Regions from separate parts of the Homo sapiens genome. Here region 1 is linked to region 2. The links come from fine-mapping of genetic effects on gene expression. A gene starts in region 2. The other region holds a variant in brackets. All regions are shown on one strand. Distances are from middle to middle. Region 1 overlaps LINC01276 (long intergenic non-protein coding RNA 1276). Region 2 holds the start of FOXP4 (forkhead box P4).

Region 1 (15,345 bases), 30 kb before region 2:
CAGCCTTTCTGCTTCTCACCTGCAGAGTTTCTCCAGTGCAGGGACCAAGAGAGCTTTACTCAGCCCACAGGACAGCTGGGATTTAGCACTGCAGGGGCAACCCTCAAGTTATTAATAAGAGATAAGAATGGGTGGATAAGCAACCTGGCTGCCTTGGAACTCCGTGGGACAATTCCATGGTGTGTTCTCACAGTTCCTCAGTGGGCCCCCATTGCCCACAATGAAACTCGATCATTAACCACTCTTCACTGGCTTTTCTCCTAACCCATCCCTATCTCACTTCCCCTTTCCCTCCCTCCAGCCTCCAGGGATCACCTCCTCAGTAAACTACCTGCACCCAAGTTCTTGTCTCAGGGTCTGATTTCAGGAGAAACCAAACTAGGACATGCAGAGACACGCGTGCACACATACACATACACACACACACACACACACACGCGCACATCTCTGTGAAAAGATGAGGCACAGAGAAGAATCATTCCCAGTCATGACTGGATGGCACCAATAATAAAGGCTGACACGTCCAAAGCTCTAAGACTGTGCTCCTCACTTTGCTAAGCACGTTCGACACTTGCTTCATTTATTTATTTTTATTTGGCAGGTGAGAAGTAGGCATCATAATTATACCTATTACATAGAGTAAGAAACTGAGGCTGAGAGATTAACCTGTCAAGGTCCCTTAGCTAAGTGGTAAAGCCTGGCTGTGTGCCCAGACCTGTCCACCTCCAAAGCAGTTGTCTTGTAAAGACTGCCTAGGCTGTCCGTGGCTGATGCTACAGGAATGGAGCCCAGAGAGGACTAGGGATGGGGAGACTTCCTGGAGGAGGTGGGGTTTGGCTTGGCCTTGAAAGACCAGGTAGGCTTCCACTTCTACCCATCCAGGGCAGGCCGTATGGAAAACAGGGAAAGCTTCTAGGCAAAACATGAAGAACTTTAAAAACAACAGTGAGGAGTTGGGTCCAGCTAGCCAGGAGTGTGTGTTGGAGCAGGTTGAGGCCAGGCTGTGGAGACCAGAATGTCAGCCAGCAAGGTAGCCTCTTCCCCACTCCAGCCCAATGACCTATGTCAGAGAGAGCTCACCAGGAACAGGAATGGTGAAGGCTGGGGACTAGACAGCAGTCCTGCTCAGGCAGGGAGGGCAGAGAACTCACACCTGGTCTGCACCCCATTTCCTGGCCAGGCACCCCTGGTCTCAGTCATTCCCCATTTCCAAGTAGTAAATAGATGTATAAAGCAACCATTTCCATTTAAAGCTCTGCAGACCGTAGGGAGGAGGGCCTGCAGGCCATCTGGGCCCTTGTTTGGCAATGTTTGTGCTCACAACAAACCTGATAGACAGAGATTTATCGCCGTTTTCATTAGCTGGGGTTGGTTTGGTTTGCTGCTTTTCCACCCCCTCCCCGCTACACACACACTCCCGAGTTACAGATTTATGGTGGGTGGGAGGACCAGGGACTCAGAGAGAGGGGAGGAAGAAGGCTGAGCAAGGTATGGACTTGAAGCAAAGGGGATGGGGTGGGGATATGGAGGATGAAGGGGTGGGGGTGGTGAGGAGTGCACCAGCTCCAGAGAAAAGACTAAGAGAGGGTGTGTGTGTGTGTGTGTGTGTGCACTAGCATGCATGTTAGAAGGTGGCTGAAAGACACCTGCAGCCACATGCCCCCAACACACACGTACACACACATCTCATAATCACTGTAACTGTTGAGCATAGAAGCTGCTGAAATTCTAAGCTATCACCACCAGCACTGGGCCCAAGGCCAGGAGGGATGCAGACCTTTGGCAACCTCAGGGTCCACTCTGGTATGACCGTATTTAACAAATGCCTATGTAGCATTCCTTCTGTCCTGAGGCTTTAGCTAGCTTCACTAATTTCACCATTAAAGCAACCTCCAAAGTGGACACTGTATCGTTTCCTTGATGCTGGTTCTTTCCCTCCCCTCACAGCAGAGTATACACCCCACCCATCTCTGTAGGAAGGGGGCCTGGACTTGAGTTCCCAGTTGAAGATATCATTTTTCCCCTTGGTGAAGTTCCCATGGGCATCCCCTTAGGGCTCTTTCTTGGGTTCTTTGCACTCCCTCTCCTCCAGCACTTCCCACCCCCAGCCAGGCTGGCTCTTCCCTGTCTGCATCTTTTCTCAAACAGCACCTCCTGCCCGGTGTGCCCTCCCCACACCTTCACTCATCAAAATCCTTCTAGCCTTCAAGCCCTCGGGGACTGCCTCGTGAGGCCATTCCTGAGCTGCTCCATGAGGGTCATGCCTTCAGTGAAAGACACTGAGAGCCGCCCTTGGGGATCATCCTGAAGGAAGAGGAAGAAACCAGAGAAGGTTGGCTCCCGCCTCTCACAAGCAGAGTGGCTCTACTTTTTATAGCAGAGTTCTGTGTTGGATTTCATTACAGCTAATTTTAAGAGGAAAAACAAGGTTTAACCCAGTGATCAATTCTAACTTTCTCATTTCACAGGTGAGAAACCAAGATCAGAGAGGGTGAGTGACTTGTCCAAGTCACACAGAGTTCTCGTCAGGGCCACAGGGCCAGGCTCCCCGATGCTCTTTCCATGGGATAGTTTCCCCAGTGTATATGCCCATCCTGCTAGGAGACTGGAAGCTCTAGAGAGCAAGGACCAGGACGTGGCATCTCTGTCTCCACTCAACAAACATGTGATGCCTGCGTGTTATTTCACAGGCATTTGATCCCCAAGGCTGGCAGCTTTCGGAGGGTCCATGTTATCAACTTGCCTCCACAGCACCCAGGTAGGGACAGGCTGTAGGGTTGAGACAGGGCTGGAGTGTGGAAGGGGGAGTTCCTTGTCTCTATAGAATCTCCTCTGTCTGGAACACTCACTGCCAAACAGAGCTCTCTGCCTCAGGATTTTCAACACACAAAGCACCTGTCTTTTCAGACCCACCCATAGTCATGTCCCTTGAAAAGAAAGGGTTGATGGGTTGGTTGGTTGGTTGGTTGGTTGGTTGCCTGGAAGGCCCTTAGCAATAATCTGAAGGAAACCAAAAGAACTTCCTCTCCCCAACAAACCAGAACATCAACCCACCATCAGCCTGCCTCAGTGTCTACCGTCCCATCAGAGTGCCTCCTGTGGGACACGGCCTTGGCTCCAGAAAGTCCCACCTCTTTCCTAAGCAGGAGTATCCCACTAGTTCTGACTAAGGCAGGACTTATCGAAGTCAAGAGTGGGCTCTGGAGCCACACAGTCTTGGATTCTAGTCCAAGCTCTGCGGCTGAGAAATACTGAAATACTTAACCTCTCTCTGCTCTGGTCTCCTCTGGGAAATAGGGATAAGAATATCTGGAACAGTGCTCAGAGGATTATTAAAAGAAGTGAACAATTTGTCTCAACTTCCCTGACGGAAAAAAAAAAGGATTGAATGAGATAACCAGTTGGGACACTCAACACAGCACTGGGCCCACTATCTTCCTGTGAATGAGGTCCTCCAGGATTAGCAAGTGCGTTGCTTGGCAAAGTCCCCAGGGAACAAGAGGATGGAGCTGGTGGAGCTTGAAGACACAGAGAATAGAGGGAGTTACCCCAGGCCACAGACAGCCCTGGTAGAGGAGGGGGAACAGCCTAGTCACTGAGCCCCCATCTGCTATGGGGAATCTTGAAAGTGGGAGGAGAAAAGTCTGGCACCAAAACCAACGTCTCCTTCTCTGATTTGCCAGGAGCTGCCCCTTAGCTGGGCTTAAGAGTTCCTTCCAAGGGGTCATTTCACATGATAACAAACTTTCATAGAACTCACTACATGCCAAACACTACATCTTCCCCCGGTAAACTAGACGGTTGGGGCCATTAGGGATTATTATCGTTACCCTGTCTTAGAAGAAGGCGGCTGATGCACCAGGAGCTAGCAACCTGCTGGGGCCACACAGTCCTAAAGAGCAGAACTGGGCTTTGAACCCAGGTGGTCTGCCTGCTCTTAACCCCCTGGACACTGGGTCAGCTTCCTCGCCAGCCACTGGCCACACCTCCAAAGCCCTCTGCAGTCAGTTGCCTGACCAACCTTTCTTTTGCCTACTGGGGTCTTGTCAAATCTGTATGTCTCACTATCAGGCTGGGATCTCATTCTTTTTCCAGTTCGATGGAAATTACCAAGGTCCAGGGGTCCAAGGTTGGGGGGATGGGGGAGGGTGAACAAGACAAATAAGACATAATCCTGGCCCTTGGGAGTTTTCCACTCACCCCTCTTAGACCAAGCAAAAGTACAAATGGAGACCCACATTCCATATGTCTAAATATTTAAAAGTTAAAAATCAAGTTAACAAACTGTTTAATAAAATATGTTCTATTCATACACCTTCTAAAGATCTGGAAGGCTGGATTTGAATTTAGAGTTCTCAGGTTTCTTGGAGTTCTACACAGGGACACGGAGTGGGGAGAAACTCCCTCTGCTCTCCCCCAGCCCTGCCCTCAGCCTGCCTCTTCCCTTCCCATCCCCACCTTCACCTTAAACTAGGGCTTCGAGCATGTGTGTAGATACTCCAATCCGCACACACAGCTGCTGACTGCATGCCCCACACTCAACTCACAGCCAAGACACAGGCTACCCTCTGGAGGTTGAACCTGGGGAGGTGGCCTGCAGAGGTCTTGGATGCAGGGTACAGGCCCTTAGGGCAGGGATTTCTAGGGCCCTGGGCATCTGGAGCATGGTTCAGGAGTGGGGGTGGCTCCCTCCTTCTGAACAGACTCCTACCCTGTGAGGAGGGCCAAAGGAGGGCCCTAAGTTTAGGGCCCCTTGTCTACAGGCACTGGAGCTGGAGGTGGGTCACTCTTTCTTCCTTCTGCTTTCTAATCTCTTTGCCTGATCAGCCAACATCTGAACATCCTGGCAACTTTCCTTTCTAAACAGTTCTCCAAGCCCCATCACAGCCCCTGTAGTCCAGGCCACTCTCATCTATCACCAGGTCACCACAACAGCTTCCTAACTGGTCCTCCAGGCCCCAGTCCTTTGCCCACCCCTCCACAGCCAGTGATCTTTGTTGAACACAAACTGGATCATGATGCAGCCATGCTTAACACTCTTCCGTGGCTCCCTGCTGCACACAGAAGACCCAAATTCAACTTGGCCATTGACGTTGGTGTCCAGCCCCTCTCAAGCCCTCCAGCCTCAGCCTGCCCTACTCCCTGCCCCTAAATGATGCTCTGGCCTATCTACACTGCCCCCAGGTCCCTGCAAGACATGAAGTACACACTGCAGTGTGTGCTGCTCCTCTGCCCCACTTTCTCACCTCCTGTCTCTACGAATTCCTTCTTCTTGAAGATTTGGCTTCATGGTCAAACCTGCAGCAATCCTTTCTTGTCAACAGCCCACTCCCGCCTCCAGGTCTGGCAGGGAGTCCCCGGCTTGTGCTCTCATACTAGTATCTACACTCTATTATAACTATCACTAATTTAACCACTTCTTAATACCCTGACCATTGCCATCTCTTGCTTGAACTATTGCAGTGGCTCCCTAACTACTCTCCCTGCTTCCACTCTTGCCCCTTCCTCTAGGCTGTCCTCCACCAGCAGCCAAAGTGAGCCTTTTAAGACATGTGTTTGGGCTGGGCGCAGTGGCTCACGCTTGTAATCCCAGCACTTTGGGAGGCCGAGGCGGGCAGATCACCTGAGGTCAGGAGTTCCAGATGAGCCTGACCAACATGGCGAAACCCCGTCTCTACTAAAGATACAAAATTAGCCGGGTGTGGTGGCACGTGTCTGTAATCCCAGCTACTCAGGAGGCTGAGGAAGGAGAATCGCTTGAACCCGGGAGGCGGAGGTTGCAGTGAGCCAAGATTGCGCCATTGCACTCCAGCCTGGGCAACAAGAGCAAAACTCCTTCTCAAAAAAAAAAAGACATGTGTTTACTGACCTCACCCCCTGCTCAATATCCCCAGTGGCTCTCATCTCACTATAGGATCCGAAGGCCTGGCGGGGCTATAGTATCATTCATGATTTGCCCCCTGCTCCCTCTACTCTTCTCCCTTCTTCCTTCCCTCACTCACTCTTCCCCAGACACACTGGTCTCTTTCCTTGCTCCTCGTTAAACCCAAAGGCACTGCTGCCTCAGGACCATTGCACAAGCAGTTCCTTCCCTTTACTCAGATTTCTGCTCAAATATCCTCACCTCCAAGGTCCTTCTCTTCCCCCCTACTTTGTTTTACTTCACACATTCATCTCCCCATGACAGACTGCATATCTCTTTGCTTATGTGTTTCTGTCTGTTTCTCCTTCAACCATCTAAGCTCCACAAGAGTGGGGACTTTATCTGTTTTGTCCACCTCAGTGTCCTCAGGTCTGGCACATAGAGGTGCTCAAGAAGAATTTGGCAAAGGAATCATCTGTTTATGTTTTCATGTCCCAGCTAGAATGTGTCCCCCCAAGAGCAGGGACCGTGGCTCATTTATCTCAGTATCCCCTCTGCTTGGCCTGTTGCTGGGCACATAAACAGATGACTTCATTCAGATGGTGAAGGAATGGAGGCCAAGAGCATGGCCTGTGAAAAGGCACCACAGTGGGCTGGAGCCAAGGGCACGCAGGGCAGATGGAGCTGGAAAGGTGAGGTGGGAGCAAATTACAGAGGGGCTGGAAGGCTGGGGGAGCTTCTCTGTAACTTAACATTGAAATGGCTCCTATCTAACATGGAGCCATTGCAAGGTCTTAAGCCAAAGAGAAGAATTTTACGCTGCAACTGTATTTAAAGCTGGGCACGGTGGCTCATGCCTATAATCCCAGCACTTTGGGAAGCCAACACAGGAGAATCACTTGAGGCTAGGAGTTTGAGACCAGCCTGAGCAATACAGTGAGACCCCATCTCTATGAAAAATTTAAAAATTAGCTGGATGTGATGGCACACTCCTGTAGTCCCAGCTACTGGGGAGGCTCAGGCAGGAGGATCAATTGAACCTGGGAGGTCAAGGTTGCAGTGTGCCATAATCATGCCACTGCTCTCCAGCCTGGATGACAGAGCGAGACCCCGTCTCAAACAAAATAAAATATATATATATAATATATATATATATAATATATTTTATATATATATATATATATATATATATATAGATATAGATATATTTTTTAAAGAACTTGGGAGCCGGGTGCGGTGGCTCACACCTGTAATCCCAGCACTTTGGGAGGCCAAGACGGGCAGATCACAAGGTCAGGAGATCGAGACCATCCTGGCTAACATGGTGAAACCCCGTCTCTACTAAAAATACAAAAAAATTAGCTGGGCCTGGTGGCGGGTGCCTGTAGTCCCAGCTACTCGG[G/C]AGGCTGAGGCAGGAGAATGGTGTGAACCTGGGAGGCGGAGCTTGCAGTGAGCCGAGATCGCGCCACTGCACTCCAGCCTGGGTGACAGAGCAAGACTCTGTCTCAAAAAAAAAAAAAAAAGAACTTGGGAGAAGAGTAATCACGAAAGCATGGAGAGATGGAACTGACTTAGAGATTGCAAAATCCCCAATCTCAGAATATCCCAGAAGCAAAGCATCATCTTGAGTTGGACACACCAAGGCTTGTCTCCTGATACTTCTCGGCCTCTTTACACTGGCTCAGTCCACTTTTTGACACTGAAAATTGGTTCTGGACATAAGTGCTCCAATCACCCCTAGGAATGCTGGAATTTGCGTGAGAAGGTATCTTAGAGAAAGGTTAGATGTGAGCGGTTCCCTGGGGGCAAGGGCTGGGAAAGGGGCAGGAAGAGTATGGTGGCTCTGCCCCCCCGGGAAAAGTTGAAGGCCCTTATTTGGCATCACCACTCACCTAGGCCTTGGTTGTCCAGGAAGGCCTGGGAAACAGGGCGACAGAGTGTCTCGGGTCTCCCCTCCCCTCTACCCACCCCCCAGGCTTTACTCTGGGTCAGTTGAAGCCTGAAGTGGCTTTTAAGCAATTAGACCAAGCACTGGGCACTTTCAAATCTAATTGTTTCAAAAGCCCTTGAAGGGTTTGAGTCTGAGCTCTTAAAATGCCAGAGAAGAGGGAAATCAGTGATGGTGGGAAGTGTGCGGGGCCCAGCTCTCTTCCCCTGCCCCTGTTTCTGCTCTCCATCTTCTTGAGGATGGAGCGAGTGGACAATTTAGAGCAGAAGGGTCCCTCCTCCCCAGGCTCTGAAGGTTCTGTATCCCCTTCCCTGCCCTACTTCAGGTATCCAAGTAACTGTTTAATCAAACTCTATGCCCTCCCCACCAAATTGATGAGAACTAGGGCCGTCCAGTAGGGAGACCCTGACCCCAGTGGGCAAAGCATCTCACCATCACCCAAGAAAACATGTCAGCAGCCTCACTGTGATTGCACACCTACTCATGGGCTGGAGGCTTGGGATTTTTTAAAAACCTCCTGACCTCAAGGAGACCAACAGCCTGACAAGGGAGAAAAGAGCTGCTTCAAATGGGCAGAAATGAGAGGTTGAACTTAAGAGAGATGCAAAAGCAGTGAGCTCCAGGAACACCGAACTGGGTGGGAGTAGGGCCAGAACTGGAGGAGAGAATTGAGGAACGCTCCATGGTGGAGGGTGACATTTGAGCTGAGCCTGAAGAGTCCGTAGAATTGTGCAGGTCAAGTTAGAAAGAAGGGTACATTATGAGTCCAGGGAATGAACATGAGCCAGAAGTGATCATGGAAGGGTGGAGGCCCCTAAGGACTCACATCCATCCCATCATGCTCTGACTCAGTTTCTTTGTCTATAAAATGGATCACTAGACTGGCTCAGTGGATTCTATTCGTGTTCTCCTGAGCTTTGGAGGTCCACAGAGAAGCTTTGGACCACTTATGGGCCAAGTGGGAGAGCAGAGGAGGCAGGGTCTAGACCTTTGCCTTCAACTGGAGCTTTAACTCTTAGCTGTTTTATATTTTGGATTTCGGTATACTTTTGAGTCATTTTGTCCTCTGCAAACTACTGGGTGGATGGGTCCCTGGATATCTTCCAGCTCTGAGCTCAGGGTCTTCCTCATGATCAGCCACTTCCCTACCAAGAAGGACAGAGAGAGAAATCTATGCAGAGCCCTGAGGGCCAGTGGGGTGGAAATTCTACCCCAAGTTCTGATGTCCTGGAAGGGCTCCTGCCCAGCTGCCCTGGGGAGCTCAGCCCATGACCAAACTCAGATGGACTGATGGGTTTGATTCCTGGAGATATATCATTAAAGCACCTCCCTTTACATTTAGGTAAAGTCTCCCAAACTTTTTTCATGAGGAGAAATTGCCTTTCCTTCCATTGAAGGTGCAAAAAAGACAGCTTGGGTTGCTGCCAATATACCTACATGCTGTCAGAGGGTGTGGATGCCACTACCCACAAAGCCCAGAGTTTGGACAGCAGCCCACCAAACAGCTTAGAGGTGTCCCAGCTAAGCCTTCGAGATAGGATGGAGGGTCTCCAGGAATGCCAAAGGAAATTGTTGAGGAAATCAAAGAATGAATGAACAAATAAAGAGGCCACTGCCAAAATGCCCTTGAAAGGATCACTTTGGAAGCTGTTATTAGTCGTGTTTACCTTGGTGTGAATTAAGTATCTTAGGGTAAGAGTTGCTAGGAGGAAGGAAAGGTTTTGGAAACTGGATGTCACTATATAAGGAAAGAATAATACAAAAAGAAAGATGATGGGTGCAAGACAATCACTCACATAACTTCATCCTAGTCTCCACTACCCCCAGCTCCTCACCTTCCCTCAACCCACCCCCAGCCTCCTCCTCATACCCTCTCCCTTCTTTCCTCCCTGGAAATGCTCCCCAGCTCAGGGCCCAGGTGCTGAAAGGTGCTTTAACGTGAGTGAAAAAGTATTTGGCCTGGAGCAGGGGGACCGGAAGGGGGTGTCAGTCTGTGCCATCTGAAGGGGTGTGGCCCGCTGCATGTAAACATGGAGGAAGGGAGTGGCTTCCGGCCTGAGCTATGGGCCCAGGGAAGGACTGGAAATTCCTACCTGGCCTTCTGCTGCCTCCCCACCTGCCACTGCAGCAACTTCGCTTCACAAACAAAACAGAGACGGAAGTCAGTGGAGTCTTTGCAATGACATCTGCCCCTGCTCAAGTCCTCTGCCCTTGGGAGGTCCCACGACAGGCCTTGGCTCCAACCTTCAGCACCCAAGACCCCAGGATGGCCCATACTCTCAGGGGCCCCTGCCCTGGCCCTGGCCCACTTTCCTGGTCATGTTCTCTTAGGAGTGGCTTCTAGCTATAAAAGCCCAGGTAGGCTTAAGACAAGCAAACAACAATAATAACAACGAAACCCACTTCCCATGGTTCTCCCACAGTTATAGGTTGAGAAGTCAGATGTGTAACTTAGAGCAGGTCACTTAAACTTTCTGGATTTCAGCGTCTTCCTCAATGGACAAAACAGGTCGGAAGACAGTTTGAATCATATAAGGTGCTCTATAAGGGTTGGGGATAAATATTAGGCCATTTAACTGTGGGTTCAAATCCTGCCTCCACCTCCCACCAGCTGGGTGATCTTGGGCAGGTTATTGAATTCTTGGTGCCTCAGTTTTCTCATCAGAGGTGCTCCTGTGACCTATGTTGCAGCTTTGGGAGGTGGATTAAATGAGATAATGGATGCAAATCATCCAGCTCAGTCCCCACAGTTGGTAGAGGTTAGTTTTCTATTACTATATTTTGTTGAACCTAAGACTGTAAGATGCACCATTATTTTACGATCCACTAAGAAAAAAATACCACTGTCAATGAATTGTGAGACGCCTTGAAATGGAAGAGATACTGTATTATTGGAAGGACAAGTGGGGAGTGGGTGGGAAATGGGAATGTCAATCTTTTTCCACTTGGGATGCATCCTGGAATCCAATGCCCAGCCTGCATCCCAGTTAAACCAAAACCTCTGGAGTACAGCCAGTAATCTTTCTGTGACTTGGTTTCCCCATATGCAAAATTGGGATAATTATAGAATCTACTGGGGCCATTAAATGAGTTGATTCATGTAAGCGATTTAGAACAGTACCAGGCCCACAGAAATGCTAAAGTAATTGTTAACAACTATTCCTCTCTCCACCCCCAGGTCCTGGCACAGGCTAGGTGCCTTCTGACTGTTGGTTGATGCAGGAATAGACATGATCATGTGACTGCTGCCCTCCCTCCAACCCCCATCCAGCAGGGAGAGGCCCACTCTGGCCTCTGGAAGCCGGAGAAGAGGCTCACCTGCCCAAAGGCCTTCTGTCCAAAGTTCAAGGGAGCCCCACCCCTCCCAGATGCTCAGCTCACCCCACCCCCAACAGGCAGGGCTACAGTGTGGTGGGCACTGCCACACCCGGACCTGCCACAACCTCTTGGAGTCAGTGACAAGAACCAAACGCACCCCAGCCTCCACCCCTCCCCTTTCCTGCTTTTATTATTTTCTTTTCCATAAAGATTAGTCTGTGTTGCTCCTCTATCAAGGCCTGGAGGATAAACATGTGGTCCGGAGGCAGAGAAACCCCAGGCCTGAAGGCCCCACTGCCCCCACCCCAGCAGCATAAACCCAGGGCTTTTAAGCAAGGAATGGTTTTCAGTAAATCTCTCCTATCAGCAGAAACCTTTGAAAGAGTTTGTTTAAAGGCCAGGGAGATAAACAGCAAGGAGAAGTGTTTGTTTAAGATGTATGTTCTGTGTGGCCACTCTGGGGCCCGGATTTACATCTCTGGGGAGAGGAACCACTCGGAGGCCAGGGTGGGGGCCTTCCAGGGGCACCTTGGGCTCCCGGTGTGGACTTCAGCCCAGGCAGGGACCCATGAGCTCAGGGGAGGGAAGTTAGCTGGACTGCACTCACAGGCCTCTCCAGGCTTGGGGCAAGAAAGCAGGGGCTGAAAGGAGCTGCAGGAAGGGAAGAAGCCCTGTAAAGGAGGGGAGGGGTGCCTGGAAGGACCTGCTGGTTGGAATGCAGGCAGAAATCCCCTAGGAAGCCACCAAACACACACACACACACACACACACACACACACAAAGCTCAGAACAGGCTCAGGCTCAAGGCCCACCCCAAACAGCCTCATACTCAGCAGCCCAATACACAGCTGGGTATGGCCAGCTCTGTGACCTTGGACAAGCCACCTAACCCAGAACTAGAGCCCTAGTTCCTCTCTGCTGTGAAAACAACACACCTGCCTCAAAGGGTTTTGAGTTTTCCTCCTGTCATTTGACAGATATCGCTTGTACACCTACCGTATGTCAGGCACTGTTCTAGGTGCTTGGGATGCAACAGTAAACAAAATACAGCCTCTGTCCTTTTGGAACTTAAAGAGGAGGAAGATAGGCAATGAGCACAATAATCAGTAAATTAAATACTCTTCGGAAGGTGACATGAGCTATAGAAAGAAATAAAGCGGGTACAAAGACCTGGGAAAGGATGGTTAGGTTGGACCTCCCAGAGAAGGTGGTCCTTCAAGGAGATGCAGGTATCTGAGGGGAGAGAAGCTCAGGCAGAACCCTCAGCCAGGGCAAAAGCCTGGAGGATTGAATAAAATACCTTAGGGTAGGTGCTGAAGCATAGTCCTGTGGTCAGTAAATAACGTCCAATGTTGTCATTATACTGAAGCAGTTACTGAGGCCTGGGATGGGCAGGGAAGCCTTCAGGGAGGATGCAGGACTTAAGCTGGGTTTTCCCTGGAATTCCTTCTCCCTGCCAAGTGGAGAGAAAGGCCCTGCAGAAAAGCATCATGGAGGTAGAGAGACAGGAGAATGATGGCAGAGCTCATTCCCCAAACCCAGTGGTGGCCAAGGGGTGTAGGGACCAACGCAGCTGGATTCTCAAGGAAAGTCTTTGGCCTGGGTCAGGAGTCTGGGCTCCCAGTTCTGGCTCTGCCCCTTGCTGGCAGGTGATTTGGGGCAAGTGATTTGAAGCTTCTTGCGTCCTTCTTTTCTCTACGGTAAAATGGGAATAATATATCCTCCCTTCATTGAATTGGTTGAGAGGATGAAAAGAGATATGGGGCCAGGCGCAGTGGTGCACACCTGTAATCCCAGCACTTTGGGAGGCCGAGGCGGGCGGGTTGCCTAAGCTCAGGAGTTTGAGACCAGCCTGGGCAACACAGTGAAATCCCATCTCTACTAAAATACAAAAAATTAGCTGAGCATGGCGGCATGAGCCTGTAGTCCCAGCTATTTGGGAGGCTGAGGCAGGAGAATTGTTTGAACCTGGGAGGTGGAGGCTGCAGTGAGCTGAGATCGTGCCACTGCACTCCAGCCTGGGTGACAGAGCGAGACTCCGTCTCCAAAAAAAGAAAAAAAAGAAAAGAGATATGGTGGGTGTTTCTGCCTGGAACATAGCAGATGCTCAATAAACATTGGATTTGCATTTTGGGCTGTCCTGTGCCCTTTCAGACTCCTTTTGGGCACTTTCCTGAAAGGATGAGCCAGATGGTGATGAGTCTACTGGGTCCCAGACTTGGAGGAGAAGACGACTAATAGCTGAGCATGGTCCCCACGTAGCTGAAGGGCTGTCCCGCCAGAGAAAGCCTAGATTTGTTCCAAAGGGGCTCCAAAAGGAAGGAAGAAGTTTCACGGACACAGATTTTCATTTGCACTCAGGAGGAATTTGGCAATGGTCCGGGCTATTTAACAGCAGGATGGACCTCTATAGAGACAGCTAGCTCGTGCTATTAGGAATTGTGTGGGCAGAGGTGGCTGAGTTGTTTTTTGTTTTGTTTTGTTTTTTGTTTGTTTTTTGTTTTGAGACAGAATTTCACTCTTGTCACCCAGGCTGGAGTGCAATGGCACTATCTTGGCTCACTGCAACCTCCACCTCCCAGGTTCAAGTGATTCTTCTGTCTCAGCCTCTCAAGTAGCTGGGATTACAGGCGCGTGCCACCATGCCTGGCTAATTTTTGTATTTTTAGTAGAGACGGGGTTTTGCCATGTTGGCCAGGCTGGTCTCAAACTCCTAACCTCAGGTGATCTGCCTGCCTTGGCCTCCCAAAGTGCTGGGATTACAGGCGTGAGTCACCGCGCCCAGCCCTGAGTTTTGGGTAGAGGTAGAACAGAGAGGTGGGGACTCCTTCTCTGCGAAGTTTGGACCCGTTGGCTTCTGGGATCCCTTCCAGCTTTGAGATTTGGGGATTTACCTCCATTCCTTGCCAGGCTTCACAGTCCATCAAGATCTACCCATACAACAGATTTTTTCCAATCCTTCACGGAAATTTGCCTGACCCCTGTGTCCTTTGGCTTCAGTCATGTGATGGGCCAGCACATCTGAGAGATGCATCCATGCTAAATTTGGAGTGGTCACAGATTAACACATTAGTCCTTCCAGGTAACCCAGATGCAGGTTTACAGGGTCTTGGATCTGTCAACTTAAAGGTAAAAGGAACAGTGGAACTTCTAGCACCGGGGAGGGACCGAGGACAGATATGTTTGGGAAAACATGCCTGAGAAGTTCATCAAATAGTGCCTAGTACCCTCCAAATCCTTCTTACAATAAGATTAACTTTAGCTAAGATCACAAACCAGAGCTCAAAGATCTGAAGGGCTGGAGTGCCTACCTTGGCCCCTCTTCATGAGCCAGGTGAAGTTCCAGGGGATCTCTGGACACCTTCTCCTTGCCCTGTAGACGCCTTGCCAAGGAGAACCCGCTTGCCTGGCAGCTGTAAGCCAGCACTTTTCTTTTCAAAGCCTCTGAGTCTCCTTTCCCTCCTCCTCCTTCCTTCCCGCCTCCCCCCTCAACACCCAAAAAAGGAGGATGCCCCTTCTGTTGAGTACACAGCCTGCAATTTTGCTGTCAAATCTCAGCCAGGAGGTCAGTGTTGTGACTGACTGTGTAAGGATCGCTCCCTTAAGGGTAATTACACTAAATTCCCCTCTGAAGGACAGCTCTCTCTGGATAGAATACAAGAAAACTCCGCATCCCCCATTCACGGAAACTCATGATTTCTGTGGCTGTCACTGGTACTCTGGCAGCGAGACACTTCGAGGTTCTCCAACCACTCGGAGGTGAGTATGAAGGCGGTGGCCGTGGCAGCACCCAGGCCATGGAGGTGGGTGGCCAAGCGGCAAGATTAGGGGCGTGGGGTCCAGAGGGACCCCTCTGGGGAGCTGGGGTCCTGGGTGGCCAAGCAGGAACTGGGCCACAGACAGGAGCATCTCCACCTGAGCTGGCCACGCCCTGAACAGGGAATGCAATGTCTCTCCACTGACATTCACCCCGGGAGAACACCCCTACACATGCACTCATTCCTTTGTTTAACACATTGCCTTAGAGCACTCATCACCTGCCCTGCACTGTACTAGGCACTAAAGGGGGACCCGCGATGGGGCAGCAGCCCCCTCTGCAAAGAGCTGGAGCACTCGTTGGCAAAACAAAGCACTTACATGTGAAAGGTGAATAAATATCCAAGCCTCCTCCATCCCCTGCATCATCCCCAGACCCTATCAGAGGGGCAACACGCTG
Region 2 (15,345 bases):
ACTTCTGGTCTCCCACACAGTGGAAAAGTGGGCTCTAATTCCCAAAGGAAACCCTTAGGCTAGGAAAGTCAGGCACTAGTGATTGGAAGCCTTAGGGGTGAAAAGTCACAGTGCACCAGACAGGGCACCAACAAGTATCTGTTGCATCATCTTAGAGGACTGTTGGGAGGTGAAATGAGGTCATGTGTGGAGCGTGCTTAGCACAGTGTCTGATGCATGGGTGGTTCTTCTTTAAGCAAGACCCAGCTTCAGTTTGCCTTCAGCTGCCTGGCTCCAGGGACTTCCTGCTGCCTAACAACCTTGAGAGAGGTCCTGGGGGCTGGAGAGCCATGGCTCAAGAGCAGAGGGGACTGGAGGAGAGAAGACCCTAGGGCACATGGTGAAGACCAGAAAGAAGAGGGGGTGCAGGAGAACCAGGAAGGAGCTGGGGCCTGGGGCCCAGGCCTGGCATAGAATTACAAGGATGAGGAAGTGTGTGAGCCCCACTCCATGGACCCAGCCAGATGCCACACACAATAAGGGATGTATAAAGACACTCTTATCTTCACTTATTTCTACTCTACATTCATTGCCTCTGACATTTGGAGCACTGCTTTCTCTCAAAAACAAAATAGGACTGTTGTGGGAATCAGAGATACATATTAAAAGTGCCTGGTGAACAGTTGATGCTCAACAGGTGGCAGCTATTTTCAATGTGAGTCTACCTGGGCTTTAACTTCCCTCCTTCATATCCCACCTCACCCTCCAGTGCCAGCAGCTGAGACTCCAAGCCCCAGGTCTTCCAGGTTCCATGGGGAAGGAATACATCCTCTGCTAAGCACAGAGTTCTGAAGACATCCTAAGTCAACAAGCAGAAAGGGAGCCAGAGTAGAGATGAGAAGAATGGGGAGCACAGCCCTCTGAGAGAAGGGGATGGCTCTGAGGGAATGAGAGTCTTCCTTGTCCCATTTTCTACCCAGGTTTCCCCCTTGACCCTAGCTAGCTCTTTCCTTGCGATCACTGAAGACACAGTTATTACATATGTCCTACAACATGCAGCTGATACCTGCAGGACACCAACTTGCCCTAAAGCGTTAGGCTATTTTTTGTTTTTTAAACTTTGCTCTAAAGTATCAAATCATAATCAAATCAATATGCATGTACTGTGCAGCTACCTTGCAAAAGAAATTAAGCTGGATGCAATGAGAAATCCCCAAATGACTGAAATTGTGGGTCCCTAAATTAAGGAGTTTATTATCTAGTTGGAGAAATGAGGCATAAAATGGCTAAACAGTTAACAAACAATAGGGTTTGTTAAAAGTTACTGGGAGCTTATTAAATAAGTTAGCTAACAACACATTATAACATCAATGACATAGGAGTGCTAAAGAGCACCTGGAAAGAGGCAGAAGTGGGCTGGGTTAATCAAGAAAGAATAACAGTAGCTATAGTCTATCCAATGCCTAAACTGAGAAGAATCCTACATGAGCCATACTTGTCCTCACGACCTCTCTGCCAGAGTCTCATTTTTCTTCCCATCTTGCAGTTGAGTAAACTAAGGTTAAGCCCCTTGCTTCAGGATTTGGGGCTAGAAAAGTGACAGAATTGAGACTTAAATCCAAAAGTCTTCAAGTGGATGGAAAATGTGGGATAGCTCTTAAAAGATAAGGAAGGGCCGGACGAGGTGGCTTGCACCTGCAATCCCAGCACTTTGGGAGGCTGAGGCAGGAGAATTATTTGAGTCCAGGAGTTTGAGACGAACCTGCGCAACACAGAGACCCCTTCTCTACCCGGGCATGGTAGCTCACACCTGTGGTCACAGTTAATCGGAAGGCTGAAGTGGGAGGATCAGTTGAGCCCAGGAGGTTGATCACAGTGAGCTGTGATTGCACCTCTGCACGCCAGCCTGGGCAACAACGCGGAAGCTCCGTGTCCAAAAAAAAAAAAAAAAAAAAAGATGAGGAAGAACTAAATGAAGGAAAAAGGAATTCTTTTCTCTGTGCCCACTCCTGGGGCTTCTGCTACCCTCATGCATCCTCCACCCCATCCCCACCCCCATGGGTGGGGTGCATGGGGGAGGGATAAGGCACTGGGTCTGCTCTCTTGGCCCCTCTCTGTGTGTCCTGCTCTCTTCCTGCACAGAAATCCCTCCATGTAGGGATCTCATTTGACCTAAAGATGCTGTGTTCCAACTAGTGGGAAATTGCTCACTGCTTGTCAAGCTATCGCTTATTTCCTGATCTTTAATGACTGATTTTCCACCAATCAGCCCAAAGTCCCATGCCCACCACCTTTTGGACAAGGCCTGAGTCTCTGACTCCCTAAACGTCCCAGAAGGAACTCCAAATACCTCCAAGGGCCCAGGCACCCGGTCAGCCTGGCACCTAGAAGGACAAGCCAGCCTCGCCCCAGTCCTGGGGGCCCTCTCCTCCACAGCCCCTGGCACAGCTACCCACACTACCATGGTCATCTACTTGGGGCAATATGGTAAACTGATAAGCCTCCCCCAGAGGTAGGAGCCCCGCTTAAAACCGAGGAAGCCTAGAGAGTGCCTTGAAGGTTCCTGGCACGGTTCATTAAGATGTCAACCCCTAATGAAATATTTCTTTCTTTAAATCATCATTGATCTTGGGGAAGAGGAGCCTTTGTGGAAAAGGAAAAGGCTGTCCCTCTCCTATCCCTCCCTCACCTCCAATCGGCACAGATCCTAGGTCTTTCCCAGTCAGAAAGATTGGGAAGCAGGGAATGGAGGAACAGTGGGGAGATGGGAAAGGGAAAAGATTATGGAGCAGAAGAACCACAGGGGGAAGGAGAGGCACAGTGGGGAGGGAGGTCACAGAAGGAAGCCTACTGCAGCAAGGAGACCATAATACCCAAATATCCACTACAATCGAACTGCCCCATCAGTGGGAGGCTGGGTAACAAAACAAGATGGGACACACTGATATGGTAGAATCCTCTCCAGCAGCCTCTTAAGTAAGTGACCTAGAGACACACACAACACATGCAACAAACATGTAGACATTCATCTCGGCAGCATGAAGTTCAGCAAAACACAAGTAAAAACAAGGAGCAGGCTACCTTTCATTTAAAATTTTAATTGCTTCATACTTTACTATGCCCCAAAAGTGAATAAAAATAAATAACTAAAACAAAAGAAAATTTTGAGATACCCAAGCAATACCAAAGGAGTAAGAGTAGAAAACTTACTTGGGAAGGCCAACTTCAGAAAACCACAAGGGAAGGATGGAGAATGGGAAAGAAGGAGAGTCACAGAAAGGCCTATATTAGCAATGATTTTTACATGTTTCACTTTTAAGCATAAAATGTATAGCTCAATTAATGTTTACAAAGTGAACACATGCATGTAACCAACTCCCAAATTCAAAAAGACCCCCAGAAATCCCCTTGTGCCCCTCCGTCACACCCCCACCTAAAACAGCCATGCTCCTGAGTTTTAATGCCATCAATTCATTGGATTGGGTTTTGAATTTCCTATCAATGGAATCAAACGGTGTTTTCTTTCGTGTCTGGCTTTTATGCTCAACGTTGGATTTGTGAGATTCCTCCATGTTGTTGCTCGTGGCAATGGTTTGCTCATTCTCATTGCCAAGGACTAGCCCACGGATGAGAAGACCGTGGTTTAGTCACCTATTCCATTGTTGACAGCTGTTGTGAATAGTGAGCACATGCGAGTAGATGGCCTAGCATTCTGGTGTATGCCTTTTGGTGAACATATGTACATATGCATTTTTATTGGCATATACTTAGGAGTGGAGTGGAGTGGAGTTACTGTATTATGCTGATAAAGTGGGTTTTATTTTTGTTTTTTGTTTTTTGAGACAGAGTTTCGCTCTTGTTGCCCAGGCTAGAGTGCAATGGCACGATCTCAGCTCACTGCAAGCTCCACCTCCCATGTTCAAGCGATTCTCCTGCCTCAGCCTCCTGAGTAGCTGGGATTACAGGCATGTGCCACCACACCTGGCTAATTTTGTATTTTTAGTAGAGATGGGGTTTCTCCATGTTGGTCAGGCTGGTCTCAAACTCCCAACCTCAGGTAATCCACCCACCTGCCTCGGCCTCCCAAAGTGCTGGGATTACAGGCGTGAGCCACCACACCTGGCCTATGCTGATGAAGTTTTATTCCTCAATAACTAAAAAATAGTTTTTGGCCAGGTGTAGTGGCTCATGCCTGTAATCCCAGTACTTTGGGAGGCCAAGGCGGGCAGATCACTTGAGGTCAGGAGTTCGAGACCAGCCTGGCCAATATGGCAAAACCCCATCTCTACTAAAAATACAAAAATTAGCAGGGCATGGTGGCATGAGCCTGTAGTCCCAGCTACTCGGGAGGCTGAGGCAGGAGAATTGCTTCAACTCAGAAGGCGGAGGTTGCAGTGAGCTGAGATTGTGCCATTGCACTCCAGCCTGGACAACAGAGTGAGACTCTGTCTCAATAATAATAATAATAATAGAAACATAAACTGTCTGGGCTTAGGTTTGTTGGGACCATGGGAATGAAGCAAATGTTTCTAGATGTACACACCACTACCACCCCAACCTACTCCTGAGTATCAGGCCTGCTGCTAGGAACAAGCTCATCCATCAGCCCACTTCACCTCCACAATAGGGTGGCGGCTGACCTTGGGAAAGGGCGTCTGCTTCAAAGCAGGAGACCTGGGAGCAAGTCCTCGCCACACTACTTCCTAGCTATGTGAACTGAGCAAGTCATTTGACCTCTCTTAGCTTCACCTGCAGAAGAGTCACCATTGCTGGGGTGATAAGCTGAACAGCACGTTATTCGACTGCCTGGCAAGCATTTAATAAGTGGCAACTCATGATTTGCAGTTTTGTGAGGTCAGCATTCGTCATTTTAAGTGAGGACCCTGGAGCTCATCAAGGGGAAAATAAGTAATTATGGAAAGCATGTGAGGAACACATTACCAGGCTAGAAGTTTTGCCCATCCTCCCTCCCAAACACCCAAGGAGGCCTCCCAACCTCCCAATTGATGAGTGAGGTGATGAGTGAGTTAACTGAGACTCAAACATCATGTAACTTGCCTGGGTCACACACTGGTTAAGTGACAGACGCTGAAGTTCAACCCAAGGCTGCCTGACTCTAGCCCCTGTGCTCTTAACTATGGCCCCCCTGGAGGGGCCAAGCCATGAGCCTTGGTTCCGGCCACCGCCAAAGCACCTGCACCTGCCCTGAGTCCTGTGAAGGAACAAGGACAGAAAGAGGACCCTCCTGCCTGCTCCCGGTCACTCCCACTTTGGAGCCAAGGGCTACTCTTTTCAACCTTCTTAACGAAGCTCTTGCACCAGGAAGAAGGGCTTTGGACTGGCTTCTTTGATTTCGGGGCATTTGTTCTGTATCTTTCTTTGGGGAGGCTTTGTCTTCCTCGCTAAAATGCCCTTTAGGTGAAGACAAGACAGGGTCTTTTGATGCCTTGAGCCCCCACTGTAGCTCACAGGGAGCTGGGAACTGAACTGGCCTGGAGATGAGGGGTAAACTGAACTGAAAGTGAAGCATTTCCCAGGGCAATCCCTCTGGGCAAGTGAGCCCATGTGTAAGGTACAAGGGCTGCTGCAGGAAGGGGATGGGAAAAACATTCAGTGAACCAGCCAGAAAAGGGCTGGAGAAGCCCCTCGGAGGTCACCTCATTCAATACCCCCCTACAGAAATTCTCTCTTTTGTCTCCAAAGCCCCTAGTTCTCACCCCACCCTCAGCCTTTGCTGCAAGAAGGATAGGAAGGAGAACTGAGGACATAGTCACTGGCCCAGCTGGTCTGACACAAGGACTTGCCACTCCAGGCTTGGCCTAGGGCTGTCCACACACCATGATTTCCACCAGAGCTGGGCCTCAACAGAAGGTAAATCAGATAGTACTACCAAGGGCTTTCTTTCTCCCAGAATATCCTTCCCCTCAGCTAACCCACAAGCAGGCAGTGTCGCTTCAGAGACCACCATGAGCTTCTTTCTTGTCCTCACTGAAGTGGCTCTAGTTGGAATCTGGCTCATCACTGACCAGCAGCTGTGTAAGCCTGGGCAAGTTACTTGATCTCTTTGTGCCTCAGTTTCCTCTTCTATAAAATGGAGATAATACAAATATCTCCCTCCTGGGGTTACTGTGAAGATTAAATGGCTGGTGGGTGGTACGACTCAGATGTTAGCTGTTATTTTATTCTTATGGCTATGGTTATCTCAGTTGCCACACTGGAAAGGACACTGAGATATCCACATAAATGGCACTTAGAGTCTTCCCTGCACAATTTCACACCTAGAAATCTAAAACGCTCCAGCAGGACCTAAGTATGCCTGTCCCACCTGCCCAAAAAGGCAAATACATAAAATGTGGACCTGTGCAGGTGTCACTAACATTGCAGAAAAGGGACAGAAGTGATGAAAAACAACCCAAGAGGGTGCCTCCTCTCTGAGGTCCCCTTTTCTTTCAAGGACCACTGGAACGGCCAAGAAATCCCCTCCCCCCAGGCAACTAAGCATCAATCCTTGCAGCTCCGACCCCACACCTCAGGCTTCCAGCTCCCACTCCACAGGGGCTCACATACTATGCCAGCCTCTTGTCCACCTGCCTGAGGATTTAGGGCCAGGAGAGGCTTCAAGAGCCACTGTCTTCTTGTCCTGATCCCACAACAGGATCCTCCCTTGGTCATGGGGACCCGGCATCACTGAGCTGGGTTGGGGTACTTCATGAGGACCCCTGAGGCCTCCTTCACTTCTCCCCACCCCCAACACATGCAGACAGATGGGAGATGTTTCCGGCGTGTGTGGGGCGGGGAGGGGGACGGGTATTGAGATTTCCACGGGACTCTGAGTGGTGCGTCTGCTAACAACACAGCCCTCCCCCTTGGGCCGTGGGCATTTCCTCACCCAGACCTCCCCCTCCCAACCCAAACACACCATCGCCGCCACCACCACAATCCCTCCAGTCCCCCTGGGCAAAAGCGATGTTCAGAGACGCGGGGTTTTGTTTACAATCTAATTTGTCCGGATAATTGCCTCAACTTTGCACTTCACTTTGCCCGCATGGCTCTGGCCTTGGGCCCCTTCTTCACTGGTTCGCAGAGCACTTTACGGGAAATTCCCTTTCCGCAGAGGGAGGCAGTGCGCGCCAGGGGGTGACCGTTCACAAAGCCCTGAAGGGGCCTCCCCACCTTCTACCCTCGGCTCAGGAAGCCCACCCCCAGCCCCCACGCAGTGGGGAGCAGGAGGGAGGCCAGACAGGGCCCGGGCCTGACACTGGCTCCGTCTCTGGGCCCCCGGCCACTCCCCGCGCCGAGCGCAGCCCGCCGGGAACCAGTGAACCGTGTGGGATCAGGACTTGGCCGTACCTTCAGACTCCAGGGGATGGCCGGGGTTTGCAAGCGCCCCATAGGATTAGTCCGAGGCCAGGGTGAATCCCTGGGGTCCCTCCACCTACCATCTTTTTCAGATCTGCCGCCTCACGTCTTCTCCCCACGTTCCCATTTTTCCTCCCCTAAAGTTTGGTGCACGTGGTTTTCTCTCGCTCTCAGCGGGCTGCCAGGCGGGGTGAAAGTTGCTGCACCTGCTTTAGGCGAATTATGGTAGCACTAGAAGTTGGTCTCCCCTCCCTCCGCCGCTTGCTCTCTCGCTCCCTCCTCCCTCGCTCTCCGCGCGCTCCCTCCTTCCCTCTCCACCCTCCTCCTCCCCCGCCCCCTCCCGCCCCGCCCGCGCGCCGCCCGCTCGCAGCCACTCGCAGCCCAGGCTCAGTCGCAGCCCCTCGGAGTCCGGAGCCCGCCGTCCCTGCGGACCGGACAGTGCGGCCGGCGGCCGGCGGCCGGGACGGAGCCCCCAGCCCGCGAGGAGGGCGCGGCGCAGGCGGCGGCGGCGCGGCGGGGAGGAGCCCGGGCCGGAACCAGGGCTGGGCCGGGGGCGGGGACGCCGGGGTCCGGGAGCCCGGGAGCCGGAGCGAGCTGACGAGCGTCGCGGAAGGACCGGGAAGGAAGAGCGGAGCCGGAGCGAGCCAAGCAGCCCACAAAGTGCCATGCCCCGGCGGGGTTGAGGCGCGCGGCGGTCGGCCCGGCGCGCTGGGAGGACGCCCGGGAGCTGCGCGACGCGGGGCGGCGCGGAAGGGCAGCCCCGGCGGGCGGCGGCGGGCCCGGGCTGCGACCGGAGCGAGCCCCATGCCCCGCGCGGGCTGACGGGCCGGAGCCCGCACGGAGCGGCCGGGCGGGACAGGTAGGTGGCGGGTCGGGCCCAGGGACGTGGGTGGGGGCTGGGCGGGCGACCAGACCAACTCCCTCGCTCGCGCACTCTCTCGCCCGCTCGCTGGCTCACTTTGTGTTTGCAAACTGCCCGCCCGAGACGCGCTGGGCGCCGGGCGCCAGGAGGAGCCGGGCCCGGGCCGGCGCACTTTGTTCCAGCCAGGGCCGGCCGTGGCGCACTGACCCCGCGCAGCCGCGACATTCCGCCCCTGGCCCGGGCCCCAGCGGGCCGGAGCTGCCTCGGGAACAGGTGGGGGCTGTGGCGCGGCGGGAGTGGGGGCAGCCGGAGGCCGGGGCGGGGAGGGGGGCGGCCGGAGAGGCCACCGAGGCCCGCCCTTCCCCAAGAATCTGGGCCCCGCCCCCTCCCCGCCGGGCCTCTGGGAATGGGGTGTACGGGGGCGCGACCCCCTCCCCGCCCCGAGTCAGACAAAGAATACTTCCCGGCCCAGACTTTCCAGAGCTGGGAAGGGAAGTGGCTCCCCCCAACTCTAGTCGGTACCGGACTCCCCAGGACGCGCCGGAGACAGATGAAAATGGGGGCAAGAGAGCGGGGGATCGCGGTCCTACCCGCCGTGTCGTCTCTGGTGAAGAGGGGACTTGTCTTGCTGAGGTCGCACCTCGGAAGTGCCAGGGCCAGTCAGCCCCTTTTCCATCGCTCGGTCAGCTCGGGGATAGAGCGGAAAACTTCTTGGGGACTTGAGAGCGTCTGGAAATGGCCCCTGTGATTTGTGCGCCGGAGGTGGAGGGTGGGGAAACGATCTGGCTGACACCTCTACTCACCCGCTGTGGAGAGAGCTCCCGCTTCACCACTTAAGGGGGGAAGAGAGGGCGGCCACGGGGGCCCGGAGGCCACCAGGGAAGGAGCCCGGAGTGACCGAGCAGGACCCCCCCCCGCCCCAACTGAGGAGTCTGGTATCTCCCCTGGACAACCCCAGCACCTCTCTGACCGGCGGCGCTTCAGCCTCGGGCTCCTCATCCACGCCAAACAAACTTCCTTGGGCTGCGTCAGAGCACAGCCAGTGGCGCTAGAATGCGACCTGGGGTCCCGGCCGCCCCCATAAAGGACCGGGTAATTTCGCGGAATGCGGATTTTGAGACAGGCCCAGACGGCGGCGGATTCCCTGTGTCCCCCAACTGGGGCGATCTCGTGAACACACCTGCGTCCCACCCCGATCCTAGGTTGGGGGGAAAGGGTATGGGAACCCTGAGCCCAGAGCGCGCCCCGCTCTTTCCTTTGCTCCCCGGCTTCCCTGGCCAGCCCCCTCCCGGCTGGTTTCCTCGCTCACTCGGCGCCTGGCGTTTCGGGCGTCTGGAGATCACCGCGTGTCTGGCACCCCAACGTCTAGTCTCCCCGCAGGTTGACCGCGGCGCCTGGAGCCGGGAATAGGGGTGGGGAGTCCGGAGAACCAAACCCGAGCCTGAAGTTGCCATTCGGGTGACTCCCGAGAAAGCCCGGGAGCATTTTGGCCAATGCGGGTTTTTACCTGAACTTCAGCATCTTCACCCCGGTTTCGGAGACCTGCCTAGATTCGTCCCAGCACGCACTGTTTCGGGTTCGGGATTGAGGGTTAGGGCAGCACACACAGCTTGAGGGGCAATTGTTAGGACTGGCCCGAGTGCCCGCAGAAAGAAAGAGCAGCGGGGTTGTCGTATGGCCTGTAGCTGCGGGAAGGTCTGTGCCGGTCCCACTGTCGAACCCAGAAGCTCACTTTCCACAGAAAACCAGGGCTGAAGGGCCCCCTGACCGCCATGCCCTGCGGGCACCGGGCATTTTGAGCTCTCCCCCACCCCCTCCCCCTGCTGCGAACCAGCCGGTAGGTGCAGGGGCCGAAGGCCAGGCCCAGTGGACCCAGCCGCCTGAAGGGGAGCCACGGCCTCAGAAAACCTCTGCCCGCCCCCGCGGAAAACCGCTGTGGGGAAGTCTGAAGGCCTTTTTTTTTTTTTTTTTTTTTCAACTTGAGAAACTTTTGCCTCGGGGTTTTGGGGCTCTGTTACCTGGTGGCTGGAGGGAGGATACTGGGGCTCTGCTCTTGGTACCTGGACAGCTTGTTGGCTCCCATGGTGCCCTTTCGATCTGAAACTCAAAAAACTGTGAGTTGGGGGAGTCACTCACACTCTAGTCAGTGGGGCAAGGTGGCAAGGGGAAGAGGTGGTTTTGTGGTTGCCCCCTCTCAGCCTCCACACCCAGGGCCAGGGTGAGCGCTGAATCTCTCCTGCGGGACGGGACCCTCAGGACCCACTTTATCCTGGCTCCAGCCTTGCTACTAAGTTTGGGAGACCATGGGAGCCTTCTCTCCTGGCACCAAGGGCTGGGCGCCTGGGTGGAGTTTTCTGTCCTTCTCCCTGTCCTGGACAGGTTTCCCAGGAGTTACGGAGTTGGGGAACCCCTGAGCCCTGGAGAGAGAAAGACCTGACCCCAGTGCTGGAGAACGCCAGGGCCAGAGCATTTGCAAAGGGTCCCACTTGCAAAGGGACCTGCTCCTGTCCCTTTCTGTGTAGGGATCTTCCTCACACCTAGACGCCCCCAGCCCCCTTCCTCTGCCTTTAGAGCCGAAAACTTCCGTTCTGGCTGTAGGCAGGTAGGTCCCTTCTTGCCAGGAATGTGCATATCCTGCTGGGCCCCTACCCCAAACATACCTCTTCCTTGGTGGGAGGGAAGCAGAGGGACTGGGAGAGGAAGGCTTGCTTTTGATCCAGTAATTCCCCCAAATGTTTGCTGAGCCCCTACTCTGCCTGGGCAGGTCCCAGGCTGAGTACTGGGGTACCCAAGCAGTGAAGGCTGGGGTCTGCTGTCTGGACCTCAGATTGTTGGGGTAGGAGAGACAGATATCACATGGTGGGGGGGAGGGTGGAGGGGAGAAGAATGGGAACAGGGTGTCTGTTTCAGAGGAGAGTTGTGAGGTGCAAGGGGAGGGAAGGGTTGTCTCCCCAGGAAGCCTTCCCTGCATCTTAACCCTTCCTACCCCACTGCCTTGGCGGTTTCCTGTCTCTCCAGCCACAGTGCAAGCCCCCCAGTCCCATCCTAAGCAGGCACAATGTCTTTATTTTTTGAATAGCCTAAACTGTGTGAAATAATAATTTCTTCCATCCAAGAAACTCCTCACAGTTTCCCTTCTCACAGATCTTACCACGCTCCAGCTTCCCTAGACCAAGGCAGGGCAGGTACTATTTTTGACAGGACTCTCAGGCTCCGTTGGCTGGAATGACCTCCTCAGATTTGGTTCCAGAACTCTGGAACCCAGAGCAAGGAACTGAGGCCTCCCCAGGGCAGAACATGTGTCAGAGTGGAAAAGGCTTTGGAACTTGGCATTAGAGATGGGACTCTGGAGAACTTAATTAAGCTCTTCGAACCTCAATTTTCTTACATTGTAAAGTAGGTCATAATACCCACCTTAGAGATTCTGTTTGGGAGTTAGATGAGAGAGCAGATGTCAAGTACCTTGCACGGTGCCGGGTGCATGGTAGTACTGATCAAGGGATGGCGTTTATTATTAATTTGCTAGCACTGCCAGGCCACATGTTGGTTGAATATGGAAATACTGAAGTATTAATCTTCATTTTATGGGTTGGGAAAACGAAGTCCAGAGAGAAGAGGCAACTTGTCCAAGGTTACACAGCTACATGGTAGCACAGCTGGAACTAAAATATGGGGCCCTCGACTCCCAGTATAACCAGTAGGGCTTGAGCGTGTGCTGTGGTGAAGGGAGAAAGGAAGGGATGGGAGGAGCTGCCATTCCTCCCTCCTTCCTCCATAAGCTTGGCCTAGGCCGCCTGCCTTCTAGTGTGAATACTTTCTCTTTTCCCTTTAAGTGGAGAGGGGGACTGTAGGTGCAGAATCTGGTGTTTCCACCTGCACACAACCCTGGAGCATTCCCCAGGCACTCCTAAGGTTCTTGTGAGACACACATAAATGGGAGAGAGAATTCCCCAGAATGCAGAGGAGGAAAAATGACTGATAACCCCTCTCTCCAGAAAGGGAGATTTCTAGGGTTTGGAAACCCTAGCCTACACGTCCTTATGGAAGATTTTGGCAGCAAGTCTCAGACCAGTTTGGGACCTATCACTGAATGGATCATCTCAAAGAAGCAAAAGGAAACTCCCCTTGAGCCTGAAGTTATTGGCTCCCTTCAGCGTTGCCTCCCAGGATTCTCTGTGGAAATACACACCTTCAGTCCACTGCCAGTTCCACCAAGCCGGGATCACAGCGGGAACCCTCTTTCCTCTGAATTCTGCCACTTTGGATGCTGTGGTCTTGTGAGATGTTGCTCCTGGGCCCTTGCAGAGCCTGGACGCAGGGCACACCTGCCTGATCTAGAAAACAAGAGCTCCTGGCACAAAAGGTACACATCTGGACAGGGCCGCAGGTGTTGGACCGTGGAGTCACTGTTGCTGTGGTGTGTCGCCCGGGCTGGACATGCCTGGGCCTGGCGAATGCCCTCCTTGCCTTGATCCTGGTCCCAGGATCCCTCTTGAGATCAGGGTCTTTTCCCGGCTGTCCCTCTGGCACAGCCCTGCACCTTCCTTCTCTCCTGTCTGGATGGTAGCCATACAGCCGCCTGTTCCCTGAATCCCAGCTGCTCTGCCCACCTCCCTGGGCCCCATGCTCTGGCCAACTGGAGCCTCCACAGCCAGGCCTGATGGTGGGTGGAGCCAGTTGATAGTGCAAGATAGAGGTAAATGGTGTTTCCTTTCCTGCTGCAGTTCTGATGGTCTGTGACCCAGGCTACCATGTAAATGGAAAATGGGGCGACATAGTGGGTTTTCCTCAGACTAACAGTATGTAGAATAGAGACCATCCGGCATTTGTTCAAGGTAGGCAGGACTGGTGGGAGCAGAAGTTACTCAAGTAGCAGCAAAGGGGTGGCAAAATGATGGCGACTTGAAGGTAGGGTGGCTTAGGGAATGGAGCCAGGGACTCAGTAGTTGTATCCATCCTACGAACACACTGTGGAGCGCCTACTGTGTGCTGGAGGCCAGGCTGGTGAAGGGCAGCAGGAGGGACCCGGAGAAGGGGTGGCTCACATGCAACTTGGAAAATCAGAAATAGAACAAGGGCCGGAGCACAGATCTGTGGGCACTGGCCACCTGAGCCAGCGTGGGTCCTGAAACCCCCAGCTGAGACAGGACATGTGTGCCACCCAGAGAGCCCTTAGGAGGGCCTCCCCGTGTGAAATGAAACCAGGGGGTGGGAGGTTGGGGTAGCTTCCGTTCTCATCTCCTCAGCGGGGCTTCCTTGGATTCCATTCCCGGCTGGCTTTACGTTTCTAGGAGAACATTTCTATGGAGACCCAGGCCTAAAGAAGTTGCTTCAAAAGAGGGTGGCGGTGTACTTCCTCCTTTCCTTTGGGGTTCCCCTGCAGATGCACATCCGCATCCTGGAAGGAAGGGGTACACTAGGGAGAGTTTTGGGGAGATATGAAACATCAGGATTTGTGGGAGACCCAGCGAGAGGCTGCGGCTGTAAGCACTCAGGGAGCAAAGCGCCAGGCTTTTTGAGGCTGCGTCTCTGGATGGGAGCTGGAGAAGCTGGATGGTCAGGCCATGCTGAGGGTGTAGAGTTGGTCCACTGAGAGAATCCCTCCTTCAGGAAGCCTCTGAGCTTTCTTTCCCAGAGAGCCAGAGCTACCTGTTTCCCCTCCCCAGCTGAGCGCTCGCTTTGGATTGTTCCCTCAGTGAGTTTTTACCTTTTTAACTGAGCGCATCAGTTCCAGTTGCTGGAAGCTCCTGCATGTCTGAGACCTGAGCACAGGGATATAACACAAGGGGTTTTCGGCACTCACCAGACGCAGAGAAAAGAACTGCAGCTGGGCTAGCTCGGGCCGGCAGCTGGGGATCCGGAAACACTGGAAGAGGGGACGGCTCAGGCAGCATGGCAGTGTTTAGCCACAGAGAAAGCTGCCCACCGATTGTGCTCAGAGATGATTTTGTGGGTCTAGGCCTAAACAGTCTGTACCCACACGGGTACATGATGAGGGTCCCCGGTAAGCCCACTGCTGCCAACTTCCTAACTCACTCTTCGGCCTTAGGCATGACCCGTCTTCTCTCTGGGCCTCAGTTTTCCTAACTGTACAGTGGGTGAAGAGGACACCTGCAGCCCCACATCCTCGGGCTCACCATCCTGAAGCTGTGGGTTGGGAGCCAGGCAAGAAGAGACCTGAAGGTCTCAACGTACACCCTCTTTGTTCCAAGGGCATCGGGAGCCTACTTCCATGGGTCCTTCTTGAAAGGGGTGCTGTGGAGCTCGGGGCAGAGGACACTATGACCCATGCAAGTCTCCTCCTTCCCAATTAGGCAGTGGAGCCTGATTAAAAGGGGTGCTGCCTGCCCCCTCCCACCCGATCCCCATCGACGAGATTTCCCTTCATCAGAATCTCACATTCTCCAGAAATTAATTTGATGCCTCATGTTATCAATTAATTGAATCTCGTTGGGAGAGAGAGCTCCGCGAGGTGAGGCGAGCTTCAGCTTGGCCCTTGTGTGCCGCCATCCCCCCTCCCCCTCACACCAGGGCAGCCTTCTCCTCCCCCATTCCTTTTTTTCTGCCTTTCTTTTAATTGCACTTATTTTCTAAAATAAAACCACTGCTCTGTGCCCCTTTGCCCAGTTTGGCTTGGATGGATACCCATGGACTGGGTACTGGCTGGGATTTGCCCTTTCAGAGGTGGGGGCAGGAGGACTTCCCCTCCCCTGGACCCTGTCTGATCTCTCCTTAAGTAAACAGAATCTCACCCTTTGGGAATTTGGCCGTGATCCTGTGTGCTCCAGGGGCTTCTGGTGAGAAACTTAGGAGGACTAGGGGAGGGAGGAAGAGCTGGGAACAGACTGCACCCTAGTTGGGGACAGAGGAGGTAGAGAAGGACCAAGCTAGGGACCTTTTAACCCTCAGGATTTTGTCATTCAGAAGCTGCTGCCCCTGCCAGAACTGATCCATTAAAACACAGGGCAGAGGGCATAGGTGTGTGGTACCTCCAAGCCTCCCAACAGTCAGGTCAGATATCTGCAGGAACAAGCCCTCAGCATTTTCAAGGACACTTGGAAGCCCTTGCTCTGCCCCCTGCATGGAAGATGGGGGAAGGAAGTTCTAATAGGACATCCCTATTAGGAAACCTGGGAGGTTGTTGT

The links. PIP is the estimated chance that this variant, and not a neighbour inherited with it, causes the effect.
Region 1: its variant is the best candidate, but not a certain one, in a credible set for the expression of FOXP4 in lung (GTEx, PIP 0.77).

Annotation. Positions count from the first base shown.
Region 1 is chr6:41,508,387-41,523,731 of GRCh38, forward strand. LINC01276 (long intergenic non-protein coding RNA 1276) reads left to right here. Exons shown (of 3, transcript NR_120347.1): 3 at 10,990-11,466. Among named protein-coding and RNA genes, the nearest start is that of LINC01276, 14 kb to the left of the region's middle. The variant G/C (reference allele first, on the strand shown) is at 7,266.
Region 2 is chr6:41,538,671-41,554,015 of GRCh38, forward strand. It overlaps FOXP4 (forkhead box P4), which reads left to right and starts at 7,711. Exons shown (of 17, transcript NM_001012426.2): 1 at 7,711-8,197. It overlaps FOXP4-AS1 (FOXP4 antisense RNA 1), which reads right to left and starts at 9,951. Exons shown (of 2, transcript NR_126415.1): 1 at 9,708-9,951. RefSeq lists enhancers at 1-275, 288-357, 7,398-7,507 and silencers at 5,721-6,015, 7,058-7,327, 7,658-8,337, 8,408-8,587, 8,878-9,027.